Regions from separate parts of the Homo sapiens genome. Here region 1 is linked to region 2. Evidence: fine-mapped expression QTL. Tissue or cell type: stomach. Region 2 holds a variant in brackets; the other region holds the start of a gene. All regions are shown on one strand. Distances are from middle to middle.

Region 1 (5,626 bases), 57 kb after region 2:
TAACCCCTTTTTATATCGATGTAAACATCTCCCAGCCTGTAGCTTCCCTTTTTGTATTGAATTATTTTTCTTTTGCACTATTTTAATTTTTCATGTGGTCAGGCCCAACAATCTTTTGTAATTTCTTATTTCAGTTGTAAACAGAAATTCATCTTGTTTCTACAGAGGTGATAAATGATCTATCCTATTTTTTGTCAACTCAATTCTAACTGAAGCATTCTCTGGACACTCGGAACTTCTAAAAATTCACGTTGGCTCAGCAAAATGCAAATGAAGAGCTCTGGTGCAAATGCTATTATGGAGTGGGTAAATTGAGAATGTGTGATAATCACGAGATCACATGTCCCCATTCTCACTTCCAGTTGTCAGTTTATGCTGCCTCAGCAAAACGAGTTCTGGGGCAAATGCTGTATAAGCAAATGTTATAATTATTACCCAAAGATAGCTACCAAATGATGAAAAATATTGAAGAAGAAGTCAAGTTGAAAACGCCAGAACGCATGGAAGAACTCAGAATAAGACAAGAGAGATGGGTTTGGAGACAAAACTGTCAGAATAGAGATGAGTAAAAGGATAGTAATAATCGTTCCTGATTATTGTGTATTTGCCCAGCTCATTTACTCCTCACCACCGTTATTTCCATTTTGCATTTTGCATTCCATTAGCATTATCTCCATTTTACAGATGTGAAAACTGCAGTGCAAAAAGCTATGCGACTTAGTCAAGGTCATCCAGCTTAAATAGGTGCCTGGAATTGGAACTGCAAACCCGATTCTTAATCACTGGCCCATGCTGCCTCTGACGTGGGAGCTAGAGGTTGTAGCTAAAAGAAAAAGGCTAATATCTGGAGACAGCATCACTTACAACTCAAGAGTTATAAAGGGATATTGCAACTGTTCTATGGAAACTTTCCAGATTTCTCCCCCCCTTCTGGAGAATTTATTTCAAATACCTGGATCTAGACATCTAGAATAAAAGCAGTTTCTGCCATGTACAGTGCTGGAGATAAGGGCTGATGTTTTGTATTTCAGCTGTGATTTTCCTGGATTCCAGTCGGATCATGAAATTTCCTAACAAAGACACACGAGAGACAGTGGGTCAGAGCACACAGTTAGCAGCCAGTGTGCTTGGATTTGCTACCAGCTCAGCCTCTTTCTAGCTGTGTGATTGGGGCACGTTTTCCTCATTTTTAAAGTGAGGACAATAATAGAACCAACCTCAGAGGGCTGTTGTAAGACAATGTCTGTCCATAGCAAGTGATACACTAGTATTCGTTATTTTATTATATGCTATAATTATTTCATTTGAAGCTGATATATTTCATATTAGTTATTTTTTTCTGGTTGGATTTTAGGAGACAATCTAGTTTTATCAGTAGCATATTTACAGATAGGGTGTTTCTATGTTGATTCTTGTAAATTACATTGGCATTTTCTTATCTAATTCTTCAGTTTCCAGAATACCTGATATTTGAGAGGGGTGGCCATATGTTCCAGTTTACTCTTGTTATGCTAGTATCACTCTATCTATACTCAAATGTCCCTGTTTGGAAGAGAAATCCTGTGGTCCTCCTATTTGGAGAAGTGCAACCCTCTTACAGGGGGTCACTGTTACATTATATGGGCTGGGTCAGGAGGTGCAAAGCTGGCATAAAATCAAGGATAGTGTGTTTTCTTTTCATCATTTTTCATGCCAGGATCCCCTTGGCAAGCTGCGGAAGCTTTTGGAGCCCTTCTAAGAAAAATGTTTTTAAGTACATAAAATTAAACACACAAGATTACCAAGGAATTCTTTAGTTTTGAAAGACTGCTATCACAATATTTTTAAAAACCAAATTTGTAATATGATAATATATAGGCTTTTTATTAACGACTAAATAACAGGTCTAGTGACAGGTTTAATAACTCTGGTAATTTCAAAGTAGTGATGCACATAGATGACATCGTGAGATATTCCTAGTAACAGTAATGGGATATAGCAAGAGCTGTGACTTTCTATTTGTGACAAAGTTACAGGCCCCACTTCTGTTCTCTATATTCACGATAGAATGTAATATTTTCCATGTCCATGTTCACAGACCTCTCGGATTCAATCCAGACCTCTTGTGGGTGCCAGTTTAAGAACTGCTGCATGGGCCATGCACGGTGGCTCACACCTGTAATCCCAGCACTTTGGGAGGCCAAGGCGGGCAGATGGCTTGAGGTCAGGAGTTCAAGACCAGCCTGGCCAACATGGCGAAACCCCATCTCTACTAAAAATACAAAAATTAGCCGGGTGTGGTGGCAGGTGCCTATAATCCCAGCTACTCAGAAGGCTGAGGCAAGAGAATCGCTTGAACCTGGGAAGCGGAGGTGGCAGTGAGCCGATATAGCGCCACTGCACTCCAGGCTGGGCGACAGAGTGAGACTCTATCTCAAAAAATAAATAAATAAGAAAAGAACTGCTGCACAAGAGTGAATGTTTGAAGCAAGCAGGAGGGAGGCGAATTGCCCAAAGATCAGGAAGAAAAGAAAGAGGCTGGGATGGTCATAGATCTGCCGAGGAGCACAAGAAGTGAAGAGGAAAAATGACACGGAAGATGCCAGAATGTGGACTGATGGAAGTAAAAGGGCAGGAATGGTCTGACAGATGTCTCTGTTGACAGAGGATACCCCACCCAGAATACAGCCCGTCAGAAACGGGAATGTTCACAGTGGCCCAGAGCGCGGACTTTGAAGCCTGACACACCTAGGCGTGAACCCCCGCCCTGCTGCGTTTATCAGCACGTATTTTGCACAAGTCATTTAACTGCTGTGTCTTAGTTTGTCTTCTGTTTAGTGGGGATAATAATACATCCCTTACAAAATTGCTTTGAGCAGCAGTCTCCAACATTTTTGGCACCGGGAACTGGTTTTGTGGAAAACAATTTTTCCACAGACCTGGCGGTGGGGAGGTGGTTTCGGGATATTATTATTACATTTTAATACATAATGAGATAATTATACAACTCACCATAATGTAGAATCAGTGGGAGCCCTGAGCTTGTTTTCCTGCAACTAGACGGTCCCATCTGGGAGTGATGGGAGACAGTGATAGGTCATCAGGCGTTAGATTCTCATAAGGAGCGCGCAGCCTAGATCCCTCGCATGCGCAGTTCACAGTAGGGTTCATGCTCCTATGAGACGCTAATGCCGCTGCTGACCCGACAGGAAGCGGAGCTCAGGCGGTAATGCGAGAGGGGAGTGGCTGTAAAAACAGATGAAGCTCTGCTCGCTCGCCCATCGCACGCCTCCTGCTGTGCGGCCCCGTTCCTAACAGGCCATGGACTGGTACCGGTCTGTGGCCCCGGGAGTTGGGGACCCCTGGCTTTGAGGATTAAATGAGACAGTGTATGTAAAGGGCTTTTTACTGCACCTATTGGATTGTACCACTTCCATCAATAGCTCTGGCAACAGTATCATTGTCGTCGCTGTTACTAGGAAGGTCCACTTCCCAGCAGTAAGCAGGGCCTCCCACCAGGGATTACCAAAAATCATTGTTGACCATTTGTGGCCAGAAGGGGGAAGCATACACCACACTATAAGCTCAGGAGGCTAAGGACGGGGAGTGGCGAGTGTGGATGGGGACTTCCTTTTGCTCACACAGGCTGAACTCGATGACCGAGGCTTCCTTCGCCCCCTTTGCTTGGCCATGGTGCTCGGAAGCCTACCGGTCCTTGCTGTAGGACCAAGCGCACCCAGACTGCCTAGGCACTGTCAGGGATGTTCTGGTGAGGAAGGCAGGCCAGGGACCCGGCAGAGACCAGCTGGTGTATATCCCATTCTAGCCAAGCAGCATTTGAATCACATACATCGAGAGGGCAGGTGCTGGGGTCAGGGAAGAATTCTACCACACAGTAGTTGGAGCTACGTACTTCCTTCAACTCTTCATGTTATCTAACTTTTCACCTGCTTTCTTTTTGGTAGGAATATCATCTGCCCTCCACACAGTCCCAGGAACGAACAGGCTTTACACATGCTGTGCCCAACTTAGAAACATCTAACCTAGAATGGCCTGTTCTGTCCTCCCTCACCCCACCATGAAGAAATTATTGCCCAGCCTGGGCCACATTGTGAGACTCTACATTAAGAAAAAAAAAAGCCAGGTATGGTTGTGCACACTTGTAGTCCCAGCTACTTGGGAAGCTTACTGGGAGGATTGCTTGAGCTGGGGAAGTTGAGGCTGCAGTGAGCCATGATCGCATCACTGCACTCAAGTCTGGGTGACAGAGCAAGACCCTGTCTCAAAAAAAAAAAAAAAAAAAAAAGAGGAAGAAGAAGAAGAAATTATTGCCGTATTTCTCCCTGTACAGAAAATTATGCAAAGTTTTTCACCTAGAGCTACCCATACACACATAGAAAGAAATCTCCTCTACTTTCGTGGCAGAAAAATAACAAGTTGTAAGGACCAAGATCTTATCGTACTATCCTTTTGCAACCCTTCTGCAGGGACATCCAAGAAATAAGATGCAACTAAATAGGATGGTAGGAACATCGTACATGAAACATCATATATAAAGCTGTTTCTAAGGGAAAATGCTACCCTCTTCCAAGAAGCTACCCCATGACTAATTTGCAAATCTGCACCTTGGGGAATAGAACAACTTCATTGATTTATTTATTTTTGAGACAAAGTCTTGTCTCCCAGGCTGGAGTGCAATGGTGCAATCTTGGCTCACGGCAATCTCCGCCTTCCGAGTTCAAGCAATTCTCCTGCCTCAGCCTCCCGAGTGGCTGGGATTACAAGTGCCCACCACCACTCCTGGCTAATTTTGTGTTTTTAATAGAGACTAGGCTTCACCATGTTGGCCAGGCTGGTTTCAAACTCCTGACCTCAGGTGATCTGCCCTCCTTGTCCTCCCAAAATGCTGAGATTACAGGCATGAGCCACCGCGCCCAGCCAAATAATCTCTTTTTATATGTCCCTTAGCATGTGCCACAACACTAGGCATTTAACTAGGACTCCAAGAATACTTATTGAATGGTACTAAAATCTGGGAAATGGACAGAGAGAGTTCAAGAGATCCCACTTGGTTTTCCATGGAATGGATTTTAAGTTTTCTTAAAGTTTTTTAAAGAATCAGAACCCTTTTCACAAATGAAATCGTACATACAATTTCAACAAAGAAGATAAAAGGGAATTTGCTCTGGTTGAGGCAGTGAGGACAGGGAGAGAGGACACCTACACCACCCCTTCCTTGCCTCCTCAGCCCAGGGAGGAAATCCAGGCCTTTTCAGAAACACGGTTTGAACCATACAGCCTCCCACTGGATAACAAAACAATCTGGTCTCTAGTCCAGATTAGGCCACGAGTGGATGGCCTGGGGTTTTCAAAATCATGTGTTCAGACTAAGAGGTAGGTGACCTACAGAAAAAGAATATTGGATAAAGATCTGCAGAGTTCTAGTCCTGGCTGATCTTGACAAAATCACCTGATCCCTCCTGTACAACGAAGGCTGGGACCATATGGCCTCTGAGAGCCCTGGCAAAGTCACAACCTGCTGATTTGCGGTAACTGGGAGAGAAGGCCACGCAATTCTTAATGCCCAGGTTTAGGCCTGGAAGCATCTGCTGCAGGCCTGAGTGGATCTGTGTAGCGGGAGTATATT
Region 2 (5,626 bases):
ATTCATGACATTTACTAAATTCCTAAATTTCTGCAAGCTGGAATATGGGCATGGCAGCAACTCAACTTCAGCCATCCACACCCAATGCCCTAAGAAATCATGGAGCAACAAGGTGGAAGGAACAGAGCTGCCCCTCCCACCTGGACAGCCCACCTTGGACCTGGTACTGAGAAAGAAACAAACTCTCCAACTGAAGGCAGCTGCACATTCAGTTTCTTGTTGGAGTAGCCTCTGTTGTACCCAAACAGTACTACGGCACTGGTGCTCAGCCCAGCCAAATAGGAGGGACTCCATGTCAAAGAGCCATTCCCAAGCCAATGATTCTCAATGTCTTTTTTTTTCCCACCATAATAGACATGATGAATGACATTTACATATTCAACAGTCTCATGGGCAGACTCAAATTTTGAAGAAACTGCCCCAAATCCTTTGGTCAAGTGAAGCCCCAGGCTAGCCCTGGTTGCCCACAAGTCTGATAGTCCCTTGCCAGGCTGCTCAGTGTAAGTGGAGGCTGGGGAAGCTGGGCTGGGGTTATGCACAGTTCCTGGCCCTCAGGCTGAAACATCCCCAGTTCTTTCCCACTCTAGAAGTAACAGCGATGTGCAACAGAGACTGCACATTTGGGTATTAAAATGTGTGAATCACTCACAAACTGGCAGGTCAAGACAGAACCATGGTGAGCGCTTTCCCTTGGCAGGTTGCATTGGTGCAGGGACTTGAGCAGAGCCCTAGGAGAGAAAGGAGAAAGGGCCTGAGGCACTGCTCCTTCTTGACGCCTAGTTTTTGTCCCATAGTAATATTTACACCACTTTCCAGACCCCGTTACACTTTATGTCATTGATTCTCACTGGTGGTTGTGTTTCTTAGAGAAGGAGAAGGAATTGGATCCCAAGTCCCCAAGGGCACCACCACTCTTGGGGGCTCCCTTGCAGGGGTGCCTGCCTGTGATACAGGCACTTGGCTGCTTTACTCCCCAACTCCACCCCTATGTGGTTTTTATCCCTGGCAAGCTGGCTGGGCCAGGACACCTGTCAATTATTTCATTTGTACCCTGAGCTTGTAAATCCCCAAAATTGGAGACAAGTCTTGTTTAATTTAGAAAGTTTATTTTGCCAAGGTTGAGGACGCGTGCCCATGACACAGCCTCAGGAGGTCCTGACGACATGTGCCCAAGGTGCTCAGAGCACAGTTTGGTTTTATACGTTTTAGGGAGACATGAGACATCAATCAATACATATAAGCTGAACACTGGTTCCATCTGGAAAAGGCGAGACAACTCGAAGCAAAGGCAGGACAACTCTAAGCGGGGAAGGGGCTTCCAGGTCATAGGTAGATAAGAGACAAATGGCTGCATTCTTTTGAGTTTCTGATTAGCCTCTCCAAAGGAGGCAATCACAAGCATTTATCCCAGTGAGCAGAGGGGTGACTTTGAATAAAATGGGAGGCAGGTTAGCCTTAAGCAGTTCCCAGCTTCACTTTACCCTTTAGCTTAGTGAATTTGGCACCCCAAGATTAATTTACCTTTCACAAGCTGTAGGCCTTGTTTGGAGCCAGGGGAAGGGTGTCACTGTCCCCTTTCCCTAAGGCACACACCATGGTCTTGGCCATCTGAGTAGTAGCACTCAGAACCTTTCTTCTGAGGGACTGAAGCAGATCTGGTCCCAGCTACACACTTGATGCATCTCCTACACAGGGCACTGGCCTGGTCCTTGAATGCTCCCAAAGGCAGGGTCCTTCTAGGAGGGGTAGCTCCAGATCTTATGGCACCAGGCATATGAAGAGGAGAAGAGAATAAGGCCATCTTAAAAAAGAAAACCCCCCAAAATCCAAGGTAGGAATAGCTCTAAGACAAGACCACACTAAGGAGAAGTTACTCCACTTAGAAAATAGGAATTTAAATCTTTTTAATCCTCCTCCTAAGAACTTCTTCCTGTAAGTCAGAGTCCAGCTTTTGACCCAATCAGTTATTCTCCCCAAACAGTGGGTGGAGTGGGTGTTGGAAAGAAAAAACCTTGAGCACCCGATAGAGGTTGAATGGGA[C/T]ACACTCTTAACAGCCCTATGAGGCAGCAAGGACTGTTTACTATCTCCATTCTACTATGAGGAAACTAAAGTCCAGAGAGGGTAAATGATTTGCCCAGGATCACATGACAGCTTAGAGGCAAAGCCAAGAATAGTTCAATCTACCTGACTCCCTCCCATTCATGCTTCTCCACTGCCTCAAGATGGCATACAGCTTCTGCATCCCCTTCTCAAATCTCCCACCCCAGAAACTTACCTGATTATTTACCCATACATACTGACATGTCCTGAAACATAAACCCACCTTCCTTGGTTAGAATTGCCCTGGAAGCAGAGCCTGGACGAGGACTTCAGTGTAGATGGCCTTTTGGGAGGAAATCCCAAGAAGCAGGAGTGAGGGAGTGAAGAGAGAGTGAGATGCAGAGGGAAGAAAAGCAATGGGATGTCATGGAGCTCATTACAGCTGTGGTAGCTGGGGCTTGGTCTCACCAGGCTCCTCTCTGAGGAACCCTGTAGGATGCTTCTTAGATTACCTCGCCAGCTGGGCATTTACCCTCTAACTCCTGTCCCCCACTGGTTGAAGATCGCCCACATAAGCTTCAATACTGCCCCTCCCACACTTCCAGACTGAGTAAGATCCACGAACTTCAGAAGTTGCCCCTAAGCAAGAAAGTGAAGGCATGGGGCGAGTGTCCAGCCAGTATATATCAGAATGGCCCAGCACAGCTGCACTGAAATCAGAGGTGGGCTGAAGGCAGGGCAAGAGAACCGCTTCACCACCCTTAAGACAGTTGGGGTCAAAAATGACATGGAAAGTGGGAATGACAGTGAGCGACTGGATGAATGAGATGCATGCGGGTGGCTGGGGAGGATGGACTGTGATGAGTGGTAGGAATCTTTTGCCTCCACCTAGGTTTTCTTCCAAAAAAAGCCCAGAATCTTGAGTCAGAAGATTGGCTCAAGTCCCAGCACTGCGGGGATCCATCTGTTTCACCTAGGACAACTAATTCTGTTTCTCTCACATACGTCACATGATGTTGTGAAGACCAACTGAGCTAATGTACACAAAGGGCTTTGTAGTGTGACCCGCTACACACAGGTGAGTTGCTGTTGTTGTTAGAGACTGTAGTGTAAGGGCTGCTTGGGCTGTAAAAATCTCATATCCTTTCCTTCAGTACAACCAGTACCTAACTTTTCCATTTCTAATACGTAATGCAATTTTAACCTACAATGTATCAATGCTCCTTGCCCCTGGTTCTGCTAACTTTCATTAATTTTTCTCATTTGTCTTCTGTTAAATTGCTTTAAACATGCTTGTTTCAAGCTCTTAGACTTCGCTGCTGGGAGTAGAATATGGTAGAATTCATATGAAGACCAAGTTGGCAATATCTATCAATATGATAAGTGCATTTATCCTGTGGGCCAGCAAAACCACTTCTGACAATTTATTTTTCCTGATTATCTGCACACACATGAGATACTTAAGTACAAAATTATTTATTGCAGTATTGTTTGTAATAGTGGGAGACTGGAAAGAGCCTGAGTGTTTACAATAGGGTATTTGTTAAATAAACCATGGTACATCCACACAGCAGAATCCCATGCAGTTGTTACAAAAAACACATCCCAAACCCCTGTATGTTCTAATACAGAAAGAGCTCTAGTTTATATTGCTAGATGATAAAGTAAGATGTAGACCACTATAAACCGTATGCTACCTTTTGTATATGGTAAGGAAAAAAACTGAATATAGGAGAAAATAATAAAAATGATTACCAGTAAGGGTTGAAAGCTGAGAAGTGGGGTGAGCAATGTCAGAGATGAGAGTGTGCCTGTTCAATGCATGGCTTTTTATTCATTTTGATATTTGAGCCAATGTATTGCCTACTCAATAATAATAGTAATAATAATAACAATAATAAAAAAAATAGTCCAGTTCCTGATTCTTTCACCAAATGAAAATGGGAAAACATAGCTGGGAGAGAGAAGCAGACTTGGTTTACCAGATGGCTGGTGGCAGAACTAAAATTCTAGTAACAAAGGGCTTGGGGAAATTCACAATTGCCGGATGTCTATATGCTCTAATGACTCTAGTGCTCTGCTGTTATTAGGAACTTTGAAACAAGGAATCAAAAAGTGCTCCAGTCAAGTTCACTAACTACGCAAATAGGGTGGGGAGAGATATGAAGGTTTCTTAACATTATTACCATGATTATTTATCAGGAGCTTTTGCATGATTTTCTCATTTGATCTCCCCAACAACACTGTGGGATATTATTATTATCATCATTGCCTCTTTTTTATAGATGAGAAAACTAATCTCAGAGAGGTTAGAAAACTTGCCTGAGGCTACAAAGAAAGTTGGCAGTGCTTCCAGGATTCAAAAATCAGGCTTATTTTGATTATGAGAGAAAAAAATAATCAGATATAAATCCAAATTATCCTACTCAGCTATTTGTTCAAAAACTGTTCAGTGAGCATCTAAGTGGCAGGCACTATATGAGAACCTTGCTATGTATCTAGCAGATTGACTTTCCTTAAATATAGAATTGATGCCTTTTGTAGTGTGTTTCTAGGGTTCTCTGTTTCCTGTTCTGTAGAAGGTATGGCAATCCTAGCCACTTGCAGTGTGAGAGGTGATCAAGGTTGACCCCTTTTATCACAGATTTTCACTCTATTGATGGTTGTTTAAGCCCTCCAAGAATGAGGAGAGACAGTAGAGTCCAGGTTACTGGCTCAGGTGCAGGTATCCTAAATTCTGCTACTTTGTGGCTTAATGAATGTCCTGTAGTCTGATCAATCAATCCTTGGGGAGGAGGAGCTAGTAAAAGTAGCAAAAAGAGGGCAGAGGTAGAAATGTGGTGGTTGGGGGGTAGAGGTATCCCCCTGTTATCCCCCCATCTTTCCCATTTACACACTCATATCTGAGCAATGTTTCCCTTGGACTGTCAGAGAAGTATAAATAATGAAATTCCCCAAATCTCAGTGAGAGAATAGACATAATTTTATATTTGTGTTAACAACCTAAAAGAAAGATTTCCAGCGTAACTGAAAGCTTTTGGTAAAATGTGATGCTGATAAGTATTGAACCTAAATGATACTTTTCAGGGATCTTTCTCAGGCTGTGCCTGAAAAAAATGGTTATAGAAGCTCTTTCACTTGTGTGAAGCCCACAGGACAAGAGGGTGACTTTTCCTGATGGCCCTTCTGTTCCAAAAAGGAAAAAAATACTGAGAAATTTGGGAAATCCACCACATCATATGACATCCATTCACAAAACAACTTACAGCACTCCAGAGTTTGTCAGTAAGAGGACCCAGAGCAGTGCCTGCCTATCTAGGACTTGTCTGAGAAACTTCCCATATAGTGCAGCTTTTTCAAGTCTGAAACACCAGATTTCCTTGGGTATGTTATTCCCAACATCCCTCTCACTCACGCTAGATCCAATTCCATCCGATCTGAACTGTTTCCCTAGTTTTATCTTCCTTGAAAGGTACTGAGCTCAGAGAATTAAGAGTCACAGGGAAGGCCAGGTGTGGTAGCTCACGCCTGTAATCCTAGCAATTTGGGAGGCTGAGGTGGGCGGATCACGAGGTCAGGAGTTTGA

Alleles and levels. Positions count from the first base shown, and alleles are read on the strand shown. Sizes are in standard deviations (SD) of each study's normalised expression.
For the expression in stomach of the gene that starts at base 3,098 in region 1, T is the low allele of the variant in region 2 and C is the other (small effect, 0.34 SD a copy in GTEx).

What was found. PIP is the estimated chance that this variant, and not a neighbour inherited with it, causes the effect.
Region 1: it holds the start of LINC03060, and the variant in region 2 is the best candidate, but not a certain one, in a credible set for the expression of LINC03060 in stomach (GTEx, PIP 0.64).

What each region holds. Positions count from the first base shown.
Region 1 is chr7:134,429,323-134,434,948 of GRCh38, forward strand. LINC03060 (long intergenic non-protein coding RNA 3060) reads right to left here and starts at 3,098. Exons shown (of 3, transcript NR_183392.1): 1 at 2,992-3,098.
Region 2 is chr7:134,372,413-134,378,038 of GRCh38, forward strand. All of the region lies in intron 1 of LOC105375518 (a long non-coding RNA gene), which reads left to right. It overlaps LOC105375517 (a long non-coding RNA gene), which reads right to left and starts at 1,939. Exons shown (of 4, transcript XR_928000.4): 1 at 1,522-1,939; 2 at 650-728. The variant C/T (reference allele first, on the strand shown) is at 2,041.